Homo sapiens: one gene and its partners. The protein of the gene in region 1 interacts with the protein of each later gene in a pairwise test. Each region holds a gene or a part of one and is shown on either strand. Other genes may lie near its edges.

What was found. The genes of interacting proteins can lie anywhere in the genome.
Region 2: the proteins of PRR5L (region 1) and PHAF1 interact in binary tests that used the Homo sapiens proteins (3 or more experiments, as listed by UniProt).
Region 3: the proteins of PRR5L (region 1) and CCDC91 interact in binary tests that used the Homo sapiens proteins (3 or more experiments, as listed by UniProt).

Annotation. Positions count from the first base shown.
Region 1 is NC_000011.10:36,460,284-36,465,728, forward strand, and holds the end of PRR5L (proline-rich protein 5-like), read left to right. Parts: intron 1-2,058; coding exon 2,059-2,453; 3' UTR 2,454-4,921; downstream 4,922-5,445. UniProt on the Homo sapiens protein: Associates with the mTORC2 complex that regulates cellular processes including survival and organization of the cytoskeleton.
Region 2 is NC_000016.10:67,126,918-67,133,945, reverse strand, and holds part of PHAF1 (phagosome assembly factor 1), read right to left. Parts: intron 2,661-7,028; coding exon 2,617-2,660; intron 1,501-2,616; coding exon 1,421-1,500; coding exon of another isoform or gene 1,130-1,420; coding exon 1,035-1,129; intron 1-1,034. UniProt on the Homo sapiens protein: Plays a regulatory role in autophagic activity. In complex with BCAS3, associates with the autophagosome formation site during both non-selective and selective autophagy.
Region 3 is NC_000012.12:28,185,470-28,193,460, forward strand, and holds the start of CCDC91 (coiled-coil domain-containing protein 91), read left to right. Parts: upstream 1-4,986; 5' UTR 4,987-5,172; exon of another isoform or gene 5,173-5,269; intron 5,270-7,991. UniProt on the Homo sapiens protein: Involved in the regulation of membrane traffic through the trans-Golgi network (TGN). Functions in close cooperation with the GGAs in the sorting of hydrolases to lysosomes.

The DNA.
Region 1 (5,445 bases):
TCTGTCAGCCGGTGGAGGTTGCCCCTTCAGCATCTCAGACGCGATGTGGCCAGGACCCGGCGCTGGGTCTCACAAGCTGCCTCCTCTGCATCCTCCCCATCCTTCGCCCCTCCCCCAAGTCTGCCGTTCCTTTGTTCTGTCCCACAGCTCCTCCTCCCTGCCCCGCTCCCATGATCTCTTAGTTGTGGGGTTCTGTAGTATCTCTGTAGTATCTCTGTGGTGTCTCTAGCGGTCATCCTCACCTTACTGTCATCACCACAACTCCACTTCCTTTCCTGATCACCTCTCACTTTGACACTGATGTTAGCATTACCTTTTTTCACATGCGATCCCTATTTATTATGGAATATAATACCTGAGCCTTCTCCCTGGCTTTCCTCGCTGCTGGCCTCGCTGGCTCCAGCCCATTCTGCCACACTTCTGCCCAAGGAAGCTTCCTGAGCACAGTCCATCTTGCCCTATGACCTTCGATGTTAACTGCGTCCCCGCAGCTGTGCTGTGACCTGGTACCACAGGTGCTTCCATCTGCCTGCCGGGGCACCTCTCCTGGAGTCTGTTCCAGCCAGGCTGTGACCTGATGGTGCACCTGTCTCAGCAGCTTTCTCAGGCTGCTGCCATTGCTCAGAACTCTGTCACCCCTTTACCGCTTCTGGGAGTTCTGCCATCCTAAAGGTCCATCTCCAGTGTACATCCTCCAGGCAAGTTTCCTATCTCCAGATGGGCATGCTTTTTCTGGCCCTTGAAGCCCCTCCACTTGGCTCATCCTTCCCTTAAGGTATTTCACCTACCCTAGTTATCTGTGGGCCTTGGATGGGCAGCTAGAAGAGCAAGGGTCTGGAGAGAGACAGACCTTGTTTGAGTCCCAGCTTAAACTACCTTCTATCTATATGACCTTGGGTAAGCTATTCCCTCTCTGAGACTCAGTTTTCTCATCTGGAAAGTGGAAACTGATACAATACCATGACTTAGGTTCAGTTTTGGGGGGGATTCAAAAGATAAAATGTCTAGGTTTAGCACAGTTTTTGGAACATGATGAGAATTCAAAAGCAGCAGTTTAGGCCGGACGTGGTGGCTCACACCTTTAATCCCAGCACTTTGGGAGGCTGAGGCGGGTGGATCACCTGAGGTCAGGAGTTCAGGACCACCCTGGCCAACATGGTGAAACCCCGTCTCTAGTAAAAATACAAAAATTAGCTGGGCATGGTGGTGGGCGCCTGTAGTCCCAGCAACTCAGGAGGCTGAGGTGGGAGAATCACTTGAACCTGGGAAGCGGAGGTTGCAGTGAGCTGAGATCACACCACTGCACTCCAGCCTGGGTAACAAGAGCAAAACTGTCTCAAAAAAAAAACAAAAAGCAGCAGTTTTATAATTAGTATCCAGCCTTCCTGTGTCTGCCTCCTTGGGGTGATCCATGGAACCTAGCCTGTTCTTTGATGATGCTAAAGGCTGTTTGAGTCCAGGAGAATTGACTTGAACAGAACATAGGTCTGAGACCCTTCACCTGGCAGGAGATGAGGGCCATTGATAGTCGTGGTTCTGTATGATTTGCAAGATAGTCCTGCTACCTTGGGTTTGACAACTGAGGTAACTCCCCAGTTATCTCTTCCTCTGGATTTCAGCTTAGGAAGACTCTTTTATATCACCTGTTGGCATGGGAGAGGCCACTCCTGCAGGAAGCCAGGGTGCTTCTTTTGGAATGCTCAGGTCCTCAGAGGACATTGATTGAAAGGGAATTTTAGGGCAAACCCAATGAAGCTCAGGCAGCAGCTGAAAAACACACCAGATTCCCTTGACTCTTATCTGTCAAGGAAAGTCTGTTGGTGACCACCTAATATGTGGGGTAGGGTTGGTTACAGGCAGGATCTGGCATAAACAGGTAAAGTTGCAAGAGAAACATTTAGGTATCACCAGATTCCTCCCTTGCATTGTGGCAGGGCTGCACCTAAGAGCTGCTCCTAAAGGTTGAGCACCTTGTTCTTTTCCCCCAGTTGGATTAGGAGCTTTTAAGCACCAATACCCCCTCCCCAATAACAGTCTTTGCTGATTTTTCTCTTGCAGCCAGGCGGCACTCCAGGGTCCGGCCCAAGGTGACTGTCCTGAACTATGCCTCCCCGATAACCGCAGTCAGCCGGCCACTGAATGAGATGGTCTTGACCCCACTGACAGAGCAGGAGGGGGAAGCCTACCTGGAGAAGTGTGGCAGCGTGCGGCGGCACACGGTGGCCAATGCCCACTCGGACATCCAGCTGCTGGCCATGGCCACCATGATGCACTCGGGCCTGGGGGAGGAGGCCAGCAGTGAGAACAAGTGCCTGCTCCTGCCACCCAGCTTCCCCCCGCCCCACCGGCAGTGCTCCAGTGAGCCCAACATCACTGACAACCCTGACGGACTGGAGGAGGGGGCCAGGGGCAGCCAGGAGGGCTCGGAGCTGAACTGTGCTTCCCTCAGCTGAGTCGCCACCCCTGGGCCTTTCCATCTCCTGTTTTGCAACCAGGATGAGGACCCCTCCATCTCCGTGGATTACTGAGGGGGGCTCTTGCTTTATGCGATGCTGCCTTATTTCCTTTAGGGTACTGTCCTGGTCAAAATGACCTAAGGGGAAACCGTTGTTGTAAACCTCTTTATTTTGGTGACTGTGACCACTTCTTTGTAGCCACCAATTGTAGTGACCAGTTGCCTAATGGTCACTTTCTGACTCCAGCCTTGCCAGCCTGACTCAGATCCTCATCTCTGGGCCTTTCTCCCTCCGATGTTGGACTGCCTGATGCTCCCAATGACATATCCAATGCTCCTGGCATTTCTGGAGCAGGAGGTTGTCAGGACAACACATATAACCACCAAGGATGTGTTGGCCTTTGGAGTTCCCCTTTAGGTTCCTAGTGATGTGGAGGTTTATGGGTGAAAAATTAGTGGAGAGGGAACTCCTCTCCCCCATTTTGTGTAGAGTGAAAATAGCCTGAAGCCCCTACTCAGCAGGGCTCTGGGAATGTGCCTTCCTTATTTTAGTTTCAGAATTGCTGGGAAAGTTACCCCACTGGTGGGTGAGGATCTATCCTCAACCTACATCCAGATCCTATGTGCTGCTTGCACAGAGGCCTTTGGCTTTTGACCCAGGAGGGCCGCGAGGCTGGAGCTGCCCTGTCTTTCATTGAGCCTTAGCATTTCCCTCTCAGGCTTCCTCTCAAGCTCAAGGAACTCACCCCCAGATAAGAAGCTGGTGCCTCTTGTCTCTCTCATTTCAGAAACGGACTTTCTCATCATGCTTTCCTATGGTGGGTATGAGGGGCCAGCTGATACCAACCAACTGGCCTGTATCTATCTATCTGGATTTGACTTGAATTTTTAAAATGTGTATCGTTTAAAAAAAAAAATGTTTGCAAATTTTGCACATAGGATCTTGCACTGTTCATTTTCAGTGGGGTGAGTCTTCACACTAAAAACACAAGCAGAGCTCCTGGGAAAAGAGACTGGAAGTGGTTCAGGATAAAGAGATCCATGGTGGGCAGGGCTGTTAGGTCACAGAGCTCTAGAAGCAGCTGGACTTGAACCCACAATGGCTTGTGTAAATTCGTAAATTTCATGGTTTCTAGGAAAAGCTGCATTGGGGTGGGGAGACCCAGTTTGCCTCATAGGCAGAGGATTCTCCAGGAAGCATGGAAAATGGAATGTTTCCATGCTTTACAGTGCTGGGAGAGAGGGGAGATGTGGGCAGGACCTTTTGGAAGGATGTTTATTCTCTGTGGTTAAAGAAATGCTGAGAATTTCTAGCATGTGAAGCACTTGGGGGCAGCAGGCCTTGGCACGGTGCTGCATCCTTCTACTGCTCCCTCCAGGTCTGGGGGCTTTTATCCACCTTGAATCCCTATCCTCCTCTTTGTAGTTGTCGGTCTCACTGATAACAGCTCCAGAAAAAAAGACAAGGCTCCCCCTCTGACCCTTCCTGTTGGTATTTATGAAATCTCAAAGAGATGAGCCACCTTGGCTTCCAATATGGCAAGAGGGTGCTGGGAGAAGGTGAAGATCAGTCTAAGCTGCCACGGTGATGAGACCTTCTCATTATGTAACTCTTGATGGCATTTCCCTTCTGAGTGAAGATTTGAAATATGATTGATTAGAATTGTGCTCTTGATGGCTGGGAATTTAGAAATTTTATTTTAAGAGTTATTTCATTTTCATCCTAAGAGTGATGGGAGAGAAATGTCCAAAAGAGATCTGCTGATCTGCTGAGAGTTTCAAACAAACAAAAAAATAATCTCTATGTATGTGTTGGATAAAGTCTACAGACTGACTAACATGCATTAGCAAATGGAGCATCAGTAGGTAGCAACATGATAATTTATGTAACTGATAGCTTCTGTCCTTATTAGTACACTTAACATTTGAGACTAGTATTTATTGATCCAGGCAAAGTAATTAATTAATCATGCTTGGGCTTACTTTTTCAGTTTGTAAGGTTAAGCATATGTGCATGCGTGCGTGTGTATATAAATGCCTTTTCCATATCTTAAATGTCCCTGATGAGGAGAGCAGTCATCAATTAAATATATAAGCTCTTAAAATGAGAATGGAAGTGTCAGTATAGACCCAGTGTACTTAAGTGCTGATGACTGTTAGCCAGTTTACAACTTTTTACCATCGATGTACACATTTGATATTTGTGCAGTAAATAGACTGTACCTATAAAAAATTTTATTGATGTTTATGGTCATGTTAGCTATCAGAGAGCTATTGGAGTGAGAGCTGAGGTGTCCTTAACCACTTTTTCTCTCCTAGATTCATTTTCATTATTTATGCTAGGATTTTCTTATGGTTGACATTTGATGACAGGAAGCAATCATGACTCTTCAAGTGAGCTCACAGAAACCTTTCATGTTGTCTGTTTCCAAAATGGATTCAATAAACAACATTTTGTCCATGTTACCCTATTCTCATGCTGGGTGCCCCAGGGGTGTCTTGATCGAATTTGCAAGTATAGCAGTCAAATCAGATCTTTTTTTTTTTTCCTCAAATTAGATCTTGATGCATCTTTCCCTCAAACTCCCTGCCCCAACTTCTGCCTCCTCTTTTCTTGTTGCCTCTACTCCACAGTCAGACAGCAGCCTTAGCTCAGCCAGTCTTCCCTGGGTTTTGTTTGCAATCCTGGACTGGATTGGCAACTCATTTCCTGGAGAAACATATTGTGGAGCTAGAAAATACTGAAAAAAGTCTGAGAAGCCAATACTTTTTCTAAAACCAGCTTGGCCTTTCTTCCCAGAGTATTTGACCTAGAGGGAACAGTTACCATATGTACTCATGGATGATCTCATATATTCCCCTCTGATTCTGTTTGGCAGAGGAAATTTATGTTTTACTCTGCATAAATACTTCTAGGAGGCTTATAGCAGCAACAGTCTGAGACCGCTAAAGACTTAATAAGAGCCTTTGAAGAGGTGTGACTGATTAGT
Region 2 (7,028 bases), on another chromosome or scaffold:
TGAGACGGAGTCTCACTCTGTCACCCAGGTTGGAGTACAGTGGCATGATCTCAGCTCACTGCAACCTCCACCTCCCAGGTTCAAGTGATTCTCCTGCCTCAGCTTCCTGAGTAGCTGGGACTACAAGTGTGCACCACCACAACCAGCTAATTTTTTTTTTTTTTTTGAGACGGAGTCTCGCTCTGTCGCCCAGGCTAGAGTGCAGTGGCATGATCTCGGCTCACTGCAAGCTCCGCCTCCCGGGTTCACGCCATTCTCCTGCCTCAGCCTCCCAAGTAGCTGGGACTACAGGCACCCGCCACCACACCCAGCTAAATTTTTTGTATTTTTAATAGAGACGGGGTTTCACCATGTTAGCCAGGAGGCCCGCCTCGGCCTCCCAAAGTGCTGGGATTACAAGCGTGAGCCACTGCGCCCGGCCTGTTTTTTTTTTTTTTTTTTTTTAATATTTTTGGTAGAGACAGGGTTTCACCATGTTGGCCAACGTGGTCTCGAACTCCTGACCTCAAGTCATCCGCCCGCCTTGGCCTCCCAAAGTGCTGGGATTAGAAGCATGAGCCACCATGCCCGGTCAGTTTTCCTTTTCTTCATAGGGGAAAATGCAGAAATGCTTCCTTAATTAAAATAAGTCTTATGAAAGCTTATCATTTTCACAGCCCCTAGGATGAATGAAATGTTTGCAAAAACAAAGGTAACTGAAAATCCAGAGGATGAAATCTCCAAATTCTAGGCCACCAGGAAAACTGTTGATTAGGAGCTTGAAAATAAGGAATGAATGAACTTATCTCTGAAAAGTGAGCCTGACCTCACTCCATTGTGGGAAGTATCCTCTTCCTCGGAATGCCAGCCTGAGCATTGTTCTTCCTCTGTCAACCCACCCACTCTACCACTTTACCCTGTAGAGCTCAAATACATGGAAACCAAAGAAAGTCTGCCTATCTAATACCCACTCCTCTATTCCCATCCCATGACACCATCTGCTGAGCCATACCACAGACACATACAACAAACACCAGGGGACAGGAAGGGCTAACCTCATACTTTGGAGCCTCAGTCCATGAGTCTAACTGAAAAGAGAAAGACAGTCCTCTGAAGTTGAGATGGAAGAGCTGCTCAGCGGAGTTGTACACTGTTGGGGGTGGGGGAGAAGAAAATAACATGGTTGACTGGCATCTGAAATGGCTAACATAAACCAGCCTGGCAGGGAGTAATGACTGACAACACCTTCCCTGTGGCTTGTTTCTAAACTGGCCTACTAGGTTGAAAACAAGGGGGAGGATGTTTCCTTCACACCCAAGTACCAACCCCACAATCCTATGGGAGCCTGACTCCAGGAAGTGGGGTGGGATGGCACTACCGGGCAGGTTTATTGCTATGAACTGCCACTGATGACCAGAGGAATCAGATGGACTTGGCTTACCTCCAGGATGGGTTGCGCCAAAAGACTGGTCAATCTGTTCAATGGTAGGAGCTATGGCCTGAGAATTAAAATGCACGCCACTGAAAAACAAAAATATTTTTTAATACTAGGCTTCACAAGATGGGCCCACAGATCATGTGAGATAGTAGCTGGGAGAGTTATTTTTAAGACACAGGCAGGTGAGTCTCTAATTATATCAAAATACAAAGCTTAATTAGAGAACTTTTAAATAAGAGCATTAATGAGGTCAGGAGAAGGTCAGTTCTCATGAGGCTGATATACAGAGTTGATCCTCTGGGGCTTTATGACACCAGTGACTCTTAAGAAAAGGGTAGAGAAGAGAAGCCACCAGACCCTGAGGTATGAAGGCCCCAGTAAAACTAAAAGACAACTAGAACCTGCAGGGGCCAGTGGTACCACACATTTGCTTGTCTACTCCTCTATCAGCAAAACTGCCTGAGCCTGCCCCAGGAATCAGGTCCTCTTCACACCCTCAAAAAGGGAAAGGGAAGCCAGTTAAGGAGACTTACTGAAAGGAGTATTCTATCGCTTGAACCCAGGAGGTGGAGGTTACAGTGAGCTGAGATGGCGCCACTGCACACCAGCCTGGGTGACAGAGAGAGACTCCGTCTCAAAAAAAAAAAAGAAAGAAAGAAAGAAAGGAAGGAGTATTCTAGATTTTTAGATGCAGGCATGCTGCCTTGCCATAATGGGGGCGCAACAACTTTGGACTGTGCATGTCATCCCCGCTGTAATTCTAAAAAATACATTATAGCTCTAAAATGGTGGTCTCTTTGGCATTCTCTTCAGCATAGGCTTTGGAGTCAGACCTATCTGGTTTGTCCCACCTCTGTTACTCATGAAAACATGAAAAGAGGTGCCAAGAGAGGCTGTCAGCGGGAGGGCAGCTATGACCCAGGAGACTGTCACATCACCTCTGAGCTGAGGTCTGGCTTTGTCAAGTGGATTAAGTTAGATGACATATACATGAAGTGTTAAACACATCACATATTCTTAATGAGGTTTACTTCTCTTCTCCAGGAAACTGAGCAGGCTTGAAGGTTGCCTCAGGAATTCATGGCACCAGGCTATAATTCACATCTGTGACAGATGTGAATCTTTACTAACTTATGAAGATAGTAGATATGGCCTGTCTATACCAAGTGTGACATATACCAGCAGGGGAGAAAACTTACCAATATTTTAACTTTACTTTAGTCAAATCACATACTTCGATCACCTAAAAAAAAGTTTAAGAGTTGTCAATGCTCTGAAAGTGATGACAGACTAAAAATGATTAAAAATACATTTATAGAATAAATAGTAAAAAAAAAAAAAAAAAAAACTATTACCAATAGAAATTTTATGGAAGCACTGCATGTTATCTTTTGTTCTCATTTAAAATTTTTTTAAAAACTTTTTGTAGAGATAGAATCTTAGCAAAACTAAAAAACTATGTTGCCCAGGCTGGTCTCAAACTCCTGGGCTCAAATGATCCTCCTGTCTTAGCCTCCCAAAGTGCTGGGATTACAAGCATGAGCCACCATGACAGTCCTTTGTTATTTTGAAACCAGGGAAAAAACCAGTTTCCCCTTCAGCATAACCATAGCCAGTGTCCCCTTCAGCATAACCTCTTAGCTTCCCTCTCCTAGTGGACTGCTCAACAGATGTCCATGGATGCTCTGGGTCAAGGCTCTTACATGCAGTCCACTTCTGGGTCAGGCTGGAGCACACACCACCCTATAGGACAATGATCTCTTCCACAGACATGAAGCTTGTTAAGGCTCTGCTTTGGGCACTAAGCCCCCTTCCTCCCATCTCATATTTTGCTGCATTTTAAAACCCAGGTCGGGTTGCTTTAGAAAATAGCTTATTTTAGCCGGGCACGGTGGCTCACGCCTATAATCCCAGCACTTTGGGAGGCCCAGGTAGGTGGATCTCCTGAGGTCAGGAGTTCCAGACCAGCCTGACCAACATGGTGAAATCCTGTCTCTACCAAAAATACAAAAATTAGCTGGGCGTGGTGGCACACACCTGTAATCCCAGCTACTGTGGAGGCTGAGGCAGGAGAACCGCTTGAACCCAGGAGTTGGAGGTAGCAGTGAGCTGAGATTGCGCCACTGCACTCCAGCCTGGGTGACAGAGCGAGACTCCGTCTCAAAAAAAAAAAAAAAAAAAAGGCCGGGCACGGTGGCTCACGCCTATAATCCCAGCACTTTGGGAGGCCGAGGCGGGCGGATCACAAGGTCAGGAGATTGAGACCATCCTGGCTAACACGGTGAAACCGTGTCTCTACTGAAAAATACAAAAAATTAGCCAGGCGTGGTGGTGGGCGCCTGTAGTCCCAGCTACTGAGGAGGCTGAGGCAGGAGAATGGCGTGAACCCGGGAGGCAGAGCTTGCAGTGAGCGGAGATTGCGCCACTGCACCCCAGCCTGGGCGACAGAGCGAGACTCCTCCAAAAGAAAGAAAGAAAGAAAGAAAATAGCTTATTTTGAAGTTGATTTTGTTTACAAAACAAAAAGATGGAGGGGGAGGTCTATCCCATTAGAAAGCAAGCCATAATATTTGTCACACAAGTGTGACAGTATTCAGTTATGTCCCTGATGAAGAGGATCTGGTTGAAACAAGAAAGCCTCAGGACCTTTGTGAAGCTTGCTCTTTAATGGGTTCAGCCTCAGATGAAATTCTAAGAACTCAGGGCAGGGCAGAGATAAAGGAATAGGCATCACCTAACACTCCGCCATCAGTGGTGCCAAGTAATAAGCACTATGAAGTCCTCCATGCAATGGTGTCAAGGGCTTGGCAGCCAGCAGCACAGGTAGGGGCTCGGAGCACCATCTACCATCCTCCAGCTGGGAGGTTTTGCTCTCATTGTGGAGACACAAGCAGAGCTGGCTCAATATCTGTTTGTCCTGCCAATCTGAGCCTGATTGTGGAAGAGGCTGTGGGGCATTGTATGCAGGAACATCTGGCACTGCCAAAGAAACTGAGACATAATAGATAGTAGGTTCGCTTTTGGCCAGAGACCCTATCCCTAACTTTATTTAGAGACCACAACACTGAACCAAATTGGATACCTCTTGACTATAATGTAGCTCTTTTGATCCTATCTGCTAGAAAGAACTGCTCCCTCTGCTAGGCCGTCACAGCACTGGAATGAATCCTTTCCTCCATACTTGTGTATTCTGTTAAGTGGTCCAATAAGTTAAGCCCCTTGAGGGACTCATTAATTTGCATAGGGAAGGTGTTCAATTCATGTTAGGCAATTCTGCCTGGTATGAAGCTTGAAAGCATGAAAAGAAGTGCCAGGAGGGGCTGTGGAAGGAAGGGCAGGGGAACAGCTATGATTCAGAAGATAGCCAGTGTCCCCTTCAGAATATCTGGGCATGGGAATATATCATGCCAAACTGGCATGCCATTTCACTGAGGCCAGAGCCTTGTCTAGCAGAGAGCCTCTACCTTCAGCCAGAAGCCCTCCTGTTCATAGCAGGCACAGGCACTCACCTCCCTCACTTCTATCCCTACAGCTGGCCAGTCATCCCCCAAAGCTTCCCACCACCCGCCCTGTGGAAGTGAGCCTGCACGATGTTCCTCCTGTATCACTGGCACCCCACCTGCCAACAGCTATACGGGTCCAACACATATAGGTGCTTCGACCCTGCCTGATCAATGGGAAAACAGTGGACCAGAGCTAATCACAGGGCACGAAGCAGCACTTGTGGCAATGGACCCAGAGTGCTGGCCATCCTGGAGTCCTTCATGTCACTAGGAGCATCAATAAGCAGATTTCATCTCTTGGAGCTTGCTGCACTACAGGGACAAGCAGCTGGGAAGGCTAAAGCCCATGATTTTCCATCTCTGGGCTACAGAAGCTCCTGATTTCCCCAGAGGGGAAGAGATGTGGCAGCAGCCAAGATAAAAATGGAAAAGACAGGTGGCTGTAAAGGTTGTGACTTATAAAGCCTCATTCCACAGGGCTGTCTCTCTTAGGCTTGAGGCAGGGGGTGGGAAGCAACTATAGGAGGCAGCATCAGAAGAGGTGGATTCTGAAGGTGTTGGATGGAAGGGCAGGAAGATAGGTCAGGTCAGGCTGGTGCCAATCAAAAACACCTGGGTGATTACTTGCTCAGTTTCCAGAAGACTCAGGCAGGACCCCAGTCTCTCCTTCATGGGGATCCCACAGAAGGCAGAAGAGGATTGCCGGTTTGATTTTATCTCCTTTCCTATCCAAAGGTACCTCCCATTCCTCATATTTCTGTACATTTCTTCAGCTTTTCTTATTTATTTCCCAGATCCATCAACAGAGCCTAAGTGGTCAGCCACCACATATTGCCAATATCCAGTTAAAAGCCTGGCATCAGGTAGACTACTTATCCTCTCTGTCCCTCGGTTTTCTTGCTAGTAAACAGTACCTACTTCACAGGCGGGTTAGGATTAAACTAGAAAACGCATGTGAAACACCCAGCCATGTGCCTAGCATATACTAAGCACTCACTAAACATATGACATTGTCTTCACCATGCTGTGATTTTATGGGCTGCTGGACATCCCTTTTGTTGCCCATTTAGGTTACTTCCAGCTTCTCATTACCATGAAATACCGTTACCTTCCCCCAGTGTTTCTGGGTTACATTTTCTAAAGTGGACTTTTACCAAGTCAAAGGGAAATGACTACTTGTAAAGAAATTTCCATGTTACCAGATTAATTTCCCCCCAATTTTTTTTTTTTGAGACGGAGTCTTGCTCTGTTGCCCAGGCTGGAGTGCAGTGGTGCGATCTCAGCTCACTGCAAACTCTGCCTCCCGGGTTCACGCCATTCTCCTGCCTCAGCCTCCCAAGTAGCTGGGACTACAGGCGCCTGCCACCATGCCCAGCTAATTTTTTGTATTTTTAGTAGAGACGGGGTTTCACCGTGTTAGCCAGGATGGTCTCGATCTCCTGACCTCGTGATCCACCCGCCTCAGCCTCCCAAAGTGCTGGGATTACAGGCGTGAGCCACTGCACCCGGCTCCAATTTGTGATTATGCGATATTGAAGATCATCCTCTGCCCTTTCCCAGTGTGGAACTTCTGGCCATGGAGACAGGATAGAATGAGGAATTCTAATTCCACATACTGATTCTCTTTCCATGTTTTGTTTTCTCTCCTTAGCAGTTCACTTGTGACAAGGATGATGAGAACTGGTAAGTACCCAAGTCTTTTGGAAAGGCTACTCCATAACCCAAGAAGGACAACAACTCTGGCATGCCACTGCCCAGGGCCCATCCAACCTCATGACTTTGAGGCATGACTCTGGTGTCACATGACTAACCTGTGAGGCCCAGGCATTTGTAAACAGGGTATATCAAAAACAGACTGAACTGGGTGCGGTGGCTCATGCCTGTAATCCCAGCACTTTGGGAGGCCGAGGCGGGCGGATCACGAGGTCAAGAGATCAAGACCAGCCTGGCCAACATGGTGAAACAAAAAATTAGCTGGGCGTAGTGGCACGCACCTGTAGTCCCAGCTACTGAGGAGGCTGAGGCAGGAGAATTGCTTAAACCCGGGAGGCAGAGGTTGCAGTGAGCCAAGATTGCACCACTTCACGCCAGCCTGGGTGACACAGTGA
Region 3 (7,991 bases), on another chromosome or scaffold:
ATATACACTAAAGTCTTTTAAGGTGAAGTATAATAATAACAAATTTAAACTGACTTAACTAATATTCAGTACCAGTGAGGGTAAGTAGAAAAATCAAGCTCTGTATTAATTTGACCTAAAAGCTGCCATAACAGAAGAAACCAGTAGATTAAAAGGAAGGAGGCAGAAAAGTGTTTATTTAAAACCTTCACAGTTTACTGTTTATGTCCTTCTTCTTATATACAAAGTTATAAATCTTTGCTTATTTGATCAGGGTTCCAGCTTTTTTATTTTCTTGGTTACAAGATGACTGCCCTCAGTAACAAGAACCACATGCTTTCTCATTTATCAAGGGAGAGAAAGGAGCCACAGCCCACAATTTTGGGGCTAAAGTCCTGTAATTGGTGCCAATTTGCTCAACCCTGAACAACATCTTGTGGCCAGGGGAACAACGTAGGTTGGGATTGGGTTATCTTAACTGGACTAACTTTGGAGATAAAGGTGAGGTTAATTTCACCTCAATTTCTTAGGTGTACTATGCACAATGTGGGAAGAGTGGAATAAATGTTGGGATTGCAACTACAGTGTCCATGATAATCACTTTCAAAGCATATATATATGTAACAACTATATTGTTAGTTGCAGTTAAACTAGATCTAAGAATATGTAATTGTGTCTGACATAATTTTTTATGTTTGATTCTTAACAAGTTTTAAGTCCGGCTCCTCACCTGTTCCCTTTTGTATGATATCTGAATCTAGGCAACTTGATGAGAAAGCTTGCCTAGATCCAAATATGGTGCAAAATAGGTATTTCCTATTTTGGTGCTGGTGGAAAATTTGAGCCATACAGTCCCTGCCCTGTGTGGGCTTTTTCACCCAAGCGCCATGTCCTAGCCATGAAAAAAATCCCAATAGCTTTTTCTCCTACTCTCTCAAGTCATTTTAAAACCTGCTTAGGAGGTCTGCTGTACTCTTCCTAGAAAGGCTCATTATGTGAGTAATAAACCTTTTTATACCCTGTTGGTGCATATGTGGTATGCTAAGTCTTGAAATAGGAGCCAAAGTTTGGGTGAGGGTTCATCTCATTTCTGTGGGTGACTGCAACAGCACATAAACTTCAATGGCAGTTTAAATTCCTGCAACCTATCTGCTGTGGTCTGAATGTTTTTGTCCCCCCACAATTCATATGTTAAACTTAATCACCAATGAGATAGCGTTAGGAGGTGGGGCCTTTGGGAGGTGATTAAATCATGAGGACACAAGCCTCATGACTAGGATTACTGCCCTTATAAAAGAGGCTCCAGAGAGCCGCCCTGTCTCTTCCACCACATGAGGACACAGCTAGAAGGCACAATCTATGACCCAGAAAGCAGGGCCCCACTAGACATCCAATCTGCTGGTGTCTTAATCTTGAACTTCTTAGACTCCAGACCTGTGAGAAATAAATTTGCATTCATAAGCTACCCAGTATTTTTCTATAGCAGCCTGAACAAACTAAGATACCATCATTGTAGTGTTTCATTATTCTTATCACCAAGTGCCCAATCTTCCTCTTGATGACTACAGCCAGAAACCTGGAATATATCTTCAATTCTTTCTTCTTCTTCTTACTCCTCCTTTTTTTTTTTTTTTTGAAAGGGTCTTGCTCTGTCATCCAGCTGGAATGCAGTGGCACAATCACAGCTCACTGCAGCCTCCACCTCCCAGGCTCCAGTGATCCTCCTACCTCAGCCTCCCACATTGCTGGGGTTACACGTATAAGCCACCGTGACTGGCTTCTTTCCTCCTTTTTTGTTGGCCATGTGCCTTTAAAATCCTTTCTGCCAATTTCATGGGTACCATCTCGGCTCAGGCAGTCATTAATTCCTCATTTTAGTTATTTTATGTCTTCTATCTGGTTTGTTTGTTTTTCTAGTCTTGGCCCCGTCTCTCCTACCCAATAATCCTTCCTCTATACTGCTGCTGAAGTAATTCTTCTCCAACCTTGCTTAACTAATTCAGCAATTTCCCATTACCTTCAGGATACAGTTCAAACTCCTTAACACAGTTTACAAAACTCTTCATCATCTTACATCTACATTTCCCATTTCTCCTGCTGCATACCTGCATACCACAATGTTTGCTTCTATGGTATGCTTACCTGCAAAATATACTTACCTCCACAGTTCATAGACAAGGAAATATATACAAAGGTATATGTTCCTTTTTCTGGAGCATACTCATGTCTTTCCTTAGCTTGGTCAATTCCAATAGATTCTTCAGGACTAATCCTGAGCTTTGATACATTCTATGAGAAGTACTTCCTGTTTAACCTAGGCTGAGTGAGGTGTTCTTTCTCCACCTTTTAGCAATAACCTTTATTTCAGTGTTTATTATCACTGTAATATCTGATTTGATTGTATATTTTTCTAGATGTGATTCTCTTAAGGGCAGGCACCATGTTTTTCATCTCAGAAGGTCACAAACTATTAGGAAAATGGGCTTGCAGATACATGTACAACAAAGAATAATAATTGAAGATGGCTCATGGAAAAAGTATTCTGAAAAGTAAGAGAGGCACATGTTCTAGAGAGACAAGAAAAGGCACAATAGAGAAATTAGAGCCCTCATACATTGCTGGTGAGAAAGTAAAATGGTACAGCCACTTTGGAAAACAGTGTGGTAGTTCCACAAGGGGTTAAACATAGAGTTACCATATGACCCCGCAATTCCACTCTTAGGTATATATCCAAGAGAAATGAGAACATATGTTGACACGAAAACTTGTACATGAATGTCAACAGGAGCATTATTCATAATATTCAAAAAGCTGAAACAACCCAACCGATGAAGGGACTTTGAAAACATGTTAAGTGAAAGAAGCCAGTCACAAAAGACCACACATTGCATGATTCCATTTATATGAAATGTTCAAGATAGACAAATGCATACAGACGGAAAGTGGATTACTGGTTGCCTAGGGCTGGGGAGAGGAGGGAGAAGTTGGGGCCAAAGGGTATGGGGTTTCTTTTTGGGGCTGTGAAAATACTCTAAAATCGAATGTGGTAAAGCATGCATAACTCTGTGAATATACTAAAATCACTGAATTGTTTATAAAGAAAAAGATTACTGTGGGGAAGGAAGAAAGATTTCATGGAGTTGGTAGGATTTGAATTCACTGATAAATAAGTGATATAAAAAGCAAAGTGATGTGCTATAGTGAATAAACAAGCCCTTCTGTTGGGCAGATCTGGCTTTAAATCCACTTGGTCAATTTACACTTCCTAAATCTGTAACCTCATCTAAAGTGTAAATATATTAATATACCTACTTTGTAAAATTATTGTGGTAAGTTATATATGGGATTTAAAATATTTAATCTAATGCCAGGCACATAGCAAATATTAATAATAAATATTAGTTACTTATTATAAATCTGTTTAGTATGGAATACAGTTTAGTATTGAATATCGGGACAGAGTGAACATGTAAGTACATCAATGGGAAGGAACTCCCAGAAACTAATCTGGTTTCCAGCAGAAAGAGATATGAGAGACAAAATAATATAAAGGTAACCTTACTAAGTTTAAGAAATATTTATGAATACCTTTTTTCTAACTACTAGACACTTTGCTAGACTGCTGGATACACAAAGACAAATGAGAAGTGAGTAGATTGCTGGATATACAAGTGAGAAGTGGTCCTTGACTTGGTAGTCTAGTAGACAGATAAAAAAATATGTGTAAGAAAGCATTACATTTCTTACAATAGAAATGTTTTTTGTATGCATAAAGAAGGGGGTGGGCTGGAAAAAGAATGTAGTCAAGGTGACTTGCTCAATACTGAAACTGCTCATTAACTACTTAGGCCAGCACTTATGGCAGACTTGTCAGGATGCCTTGCTAATATTTTCCACTTCCAGTACAGAACAGAGATTACAGGTTTAAGCCAATTTTGTTCAACAGATGAGAAACCCAGTGTCCAAGGATGAAAGAATACTTGTTATACAAGGAATGTGAATATTCCAGAGATTTATGCTCAAAGTCCCCAGGTTAGTGTCTTTCTTTCTCACTAGACTGTAAGCTTCTTGAAGACAAATATCTTGAGTGTTACCTTGCTCACTCTTGAATTGTCAAAACTTGGCCCAGGACTAGGTATGTGGTATACAATCAATAAAAATTTGTTGAATGAATGTTCTTCAAAATCCTTCCATGGCAAAAACAGAAGAAACATTCACGAGTGGACTGCTAGTTGACTGTTTCTCTCATCGCTATTGACAGTCTGAAATGGACAAAGACATCTATATAATCATTCCTTCCTTTCAAATAAATAATCTGTGAATTACGCTATTCTTTTCCTATTGCTTCAGGACAAGCTATTTGACAGAAAGCTTTTAAGAAAGGCTTTGCAAGAAAACTCTGCAACAGAGATGGCACGTATGAATTGCTGTGATCTGGAGTTGAAGACAAGAACAAAAGTAACTCTAGAGCAGAATTCTTTGACCAAAGTCATCTTACTGGTTGGCGGAGGCTCTCAGTCTACTTGCATCCGGTGCTTGAGAGTTCAGACAGGCAAAGATGAGAGGTAGCATCTAGTCAACATCCATTTCTTGAGCACTTACTACATGTCAGCCACTTTGCTTAGTCCCCGGTTTTACTGTGCTCTGCTAGGAAGTGGTGAAGAGATTCGGCGGGATCTTCTTAGGACCAATCCTACAAAGTTCCAGATGGAACTCATTTTGATTTGGGGGACGGTTTACTTGCAGGGATTAGGTGGAGAAACAGGGCCTGCTACTCAAGAGGAATGAGAAACTGTAACTAACAGGAGGTAGACTGGGAAGGAGCATGGCAAAGTCACCCCTTTTCACAGGGCAACGCTCCAAAGACCACGCTCAAGCTGGGGTGGCAGGGCTCTGAACATGGGGCCCCGACCCGGGCCTCGGCCTGGGGCCACGTGACGCGCGTGTTTACGTTGAGTGACGGGCGCTGTGTTGGGCGGGCCTTGGCGGAAATCAACTTCCGGGGGCAGAGGTGTTCGAAGCCGGGTGGTGCGTGGGCTACCCCAACCTGTGTGGCTGGGCCGCGGTCTCCCCTCAAGGGCCTGGGGCCGTGCCTCGGGTGTACGCGTAGGGGTCTGTGTGCTGGGGGTGGCTCACCGGGCAGCGTGGGTGAGCGGCGCAGCGGCGGCAGCGGAGAGCGAGAGAGGGGAGCAGGTAAGTGAACGCTCGCCTTCCGGGGCCTGGGTCTTGGGGTCGGGGCCGCGCGAGGCGAGCGGAGAGCGCCCCACCGGGGGAGGAGCGCGGACGAGCTTCCGCCGCCTGCAGCCCGCCTGCTGCGGCCTCGCCCTTGGCTGTCGCAGCGACCAGGAGTCAGGGGGCGTGACCAACCTCCTGCGGGAACGGAGCCAGCTCCCGGGGGTGGGAGTGCCCACTCGTTCCTGCGCTCGCCGGTGGGTACCGGTATCTGCACGTCCCAGAATCGAGTGTTTTCGAAAGTCTACGCCCACGAACACGTGATTATTGTGTCACCGAAGCGCCTACCGAACGGAGACCTTGATTCTTGCTTAGATTACACAGAACGCGCCTGGTTTATGTATCCCCTTTTACTTTGCCAAGTACATTGGGGTAAAAGCTCTACAGCGTCTGCCAGCCACATTTCCTTAGAGTTTCTTGGGCCACATGTTGCAATAAAAGTGGCATTTCAGGGTCAAGGCAGGAGCCAGTAACTTTGCCAAGTGGTGAGGTATCCTTCGTCCCCGTTAGCACGCCTCCCTTTCCCAACAATAAAGATATTTTCTCCATCTGCGCGTGTCGCCTACTGCGGAGGAAAGCTTTGGACATGAAACCTATTTTTGGCTTCACTTTAAGGAGTGGAACTCTATTAAAAGCTGCGCTGGTGTTTTTTTGGTAGGATGATGTTGCTGCTGCTACTCTCACTTGCTTCCTTGATGAGAGTTGGGGCAGAGCTCGATTTCCTGGAGGGTAAAGTCTTGGCCACAATTTTAGGTGACTCAGCGGCCCCTTATGAATTCTGACTCTTTCCTTCCCTCCCCTCTCAGCTGTGCGGATACTGATGCCACCTTTCTCTCCAAATATTAATCCGGGTGGGAGTTGGATGATGGTTTTTGGAAGCAGTTTGCATGTTGCGTGGTGGAGTTATTGGAGTGGGCTGACATTTTACTTCACAATTTAAGGCAACCCTTCCCCCCCCCACAATATTTAGTTGGGTGGGGTGACAGGGACTGACAACAAATTCGCTGTTGTGTTCCCTGCTGTCGGAGAGTTCTACACTTAATGATCACCTGATTGCCCTCTGCTACAATTTCTATTGCGTTGAGGGGATTGGTTATACTGTCTGTACCTATTAGGTAAATGTAGTAAGGGTCATGCCAGGCAGAGTGCACCTGCATGGTGTTGGCTAACCAGTAAACTGTGTGGTAGAGAATTGCCCTGGTTACGAAGTTTGGTATCCTCCAGGCTGCCTAGGAGGGTGTTCTGTGGGCTGGGAAATCTTATGAACTGGTTTCCTAGCAACAGTATAAGCCCAATGGAATAAACATAAAGAAAACAAAGTGATGAAAGTTACAACTTACCTCTTAACTTTTATTAAATGGAAAAATGTAGCTTCTTATTGGAGTGATCCACTCAAAACTTCTGAGACATTTTTGTTTATTTTGATCATCTTAGTACTTAATAACACACAAAAGAAACTGCAGAAAATCATTCCAGAGGGACATCACTTTGGTTTTGGGTGGCATTAAAATAGAGAAAAAAGACGTTTAAAAATGAGCTTGTCTGGAGCTTAAATGGACAAACAGGAATTTGGTGTAATAGGCATTTTATGTTGTACTCTTATCTATATGTGTCAGATGTATGCATTACATATGATTGTTATGAATGAAGATAGTAGAAGACGGAGTGGGAGTGGAGTAGAGTGGATGGGTGGATAAGACTGGTTCCATTAAGTAAAATGGAAGGGGAATGTTTTAGATAAGTTGTTCCCAAACTGTAGGTCATAATTACAGCACTCCTTTGTCAACCTGTTCCTTGTGATTTTTAATCTTCCTTGAAAGTTTATCAAATTTTCTTATTTTCTGTCCAAACAATGAGAACTTAATTGAAAAAGGCATCTCTCTTTGGATTAACTCTTGGTGTTTATGTATATCTGTTTCTTATTTACTAACGATAAATTAATATTTTAGATTTCCAGTATTTTAAGGATTTTTGGTCTCCTTACTGTTCCTCCCTGCCCTATTCCCATACCCAGTAAGTTTGGTTTAGCTCATTTAAACTGATGCATATTTTTAAAAAGGGCATATGTTGCTTTTTTTAAAAAAAATCAAGTTTTATTGAGGTATGATTTATAAGTAAAAAAGTAATTTTTATTATATTGCTGTATAAAGTCTGACAAATGCATATAATGGAACCACTGCCACAATCCAGACAAATAATATTCCCATCATTCTAAAGTTTCCTCCCCTCACTCATAGGTCCTAGCAACCACTGATCTGTTCTCTGTCCCTGTCTATAGCTTTGTCTTTTCTGGTATGTTATGTAAATGGAATCATACAGTATGTAGCCTTATGTTTCAGGTTTCTTTCACTTAATGCTTTGATTCATCCATGTTGATGCATGTTTGTTGATGCTTGGTTGTTTTTTACAGCTGAGTAGTATTTCATTGTGTGAATATATCATAGTATGTTTATTCGCCATTTGATGAACAATTTTTGGCATTTAGGAATGAAGGTACTGTAAACATTCATGTGCTGTTCTTTGTACATTAAGGTGCAAGTCTTTGTGTAGACATATGTTTTCATTTCTTTTGGTTACACATCTAGGAATGGAATTCTTGGGCCGTGTGCAAGTGCATGTTTAACCTTAAAAGAAATTACCAGCTGGGCGCAGTGGCTCAGACTTGTAATCCCAGCACTTTGGGAGGCCGAGGTGGGCAGCTCACGAGGTCAGGAGATTGAGACCATCCTGGTCAACATGGTGAAACTCCGTCTCTACTAAAAATACAAAAATTAGCTGGG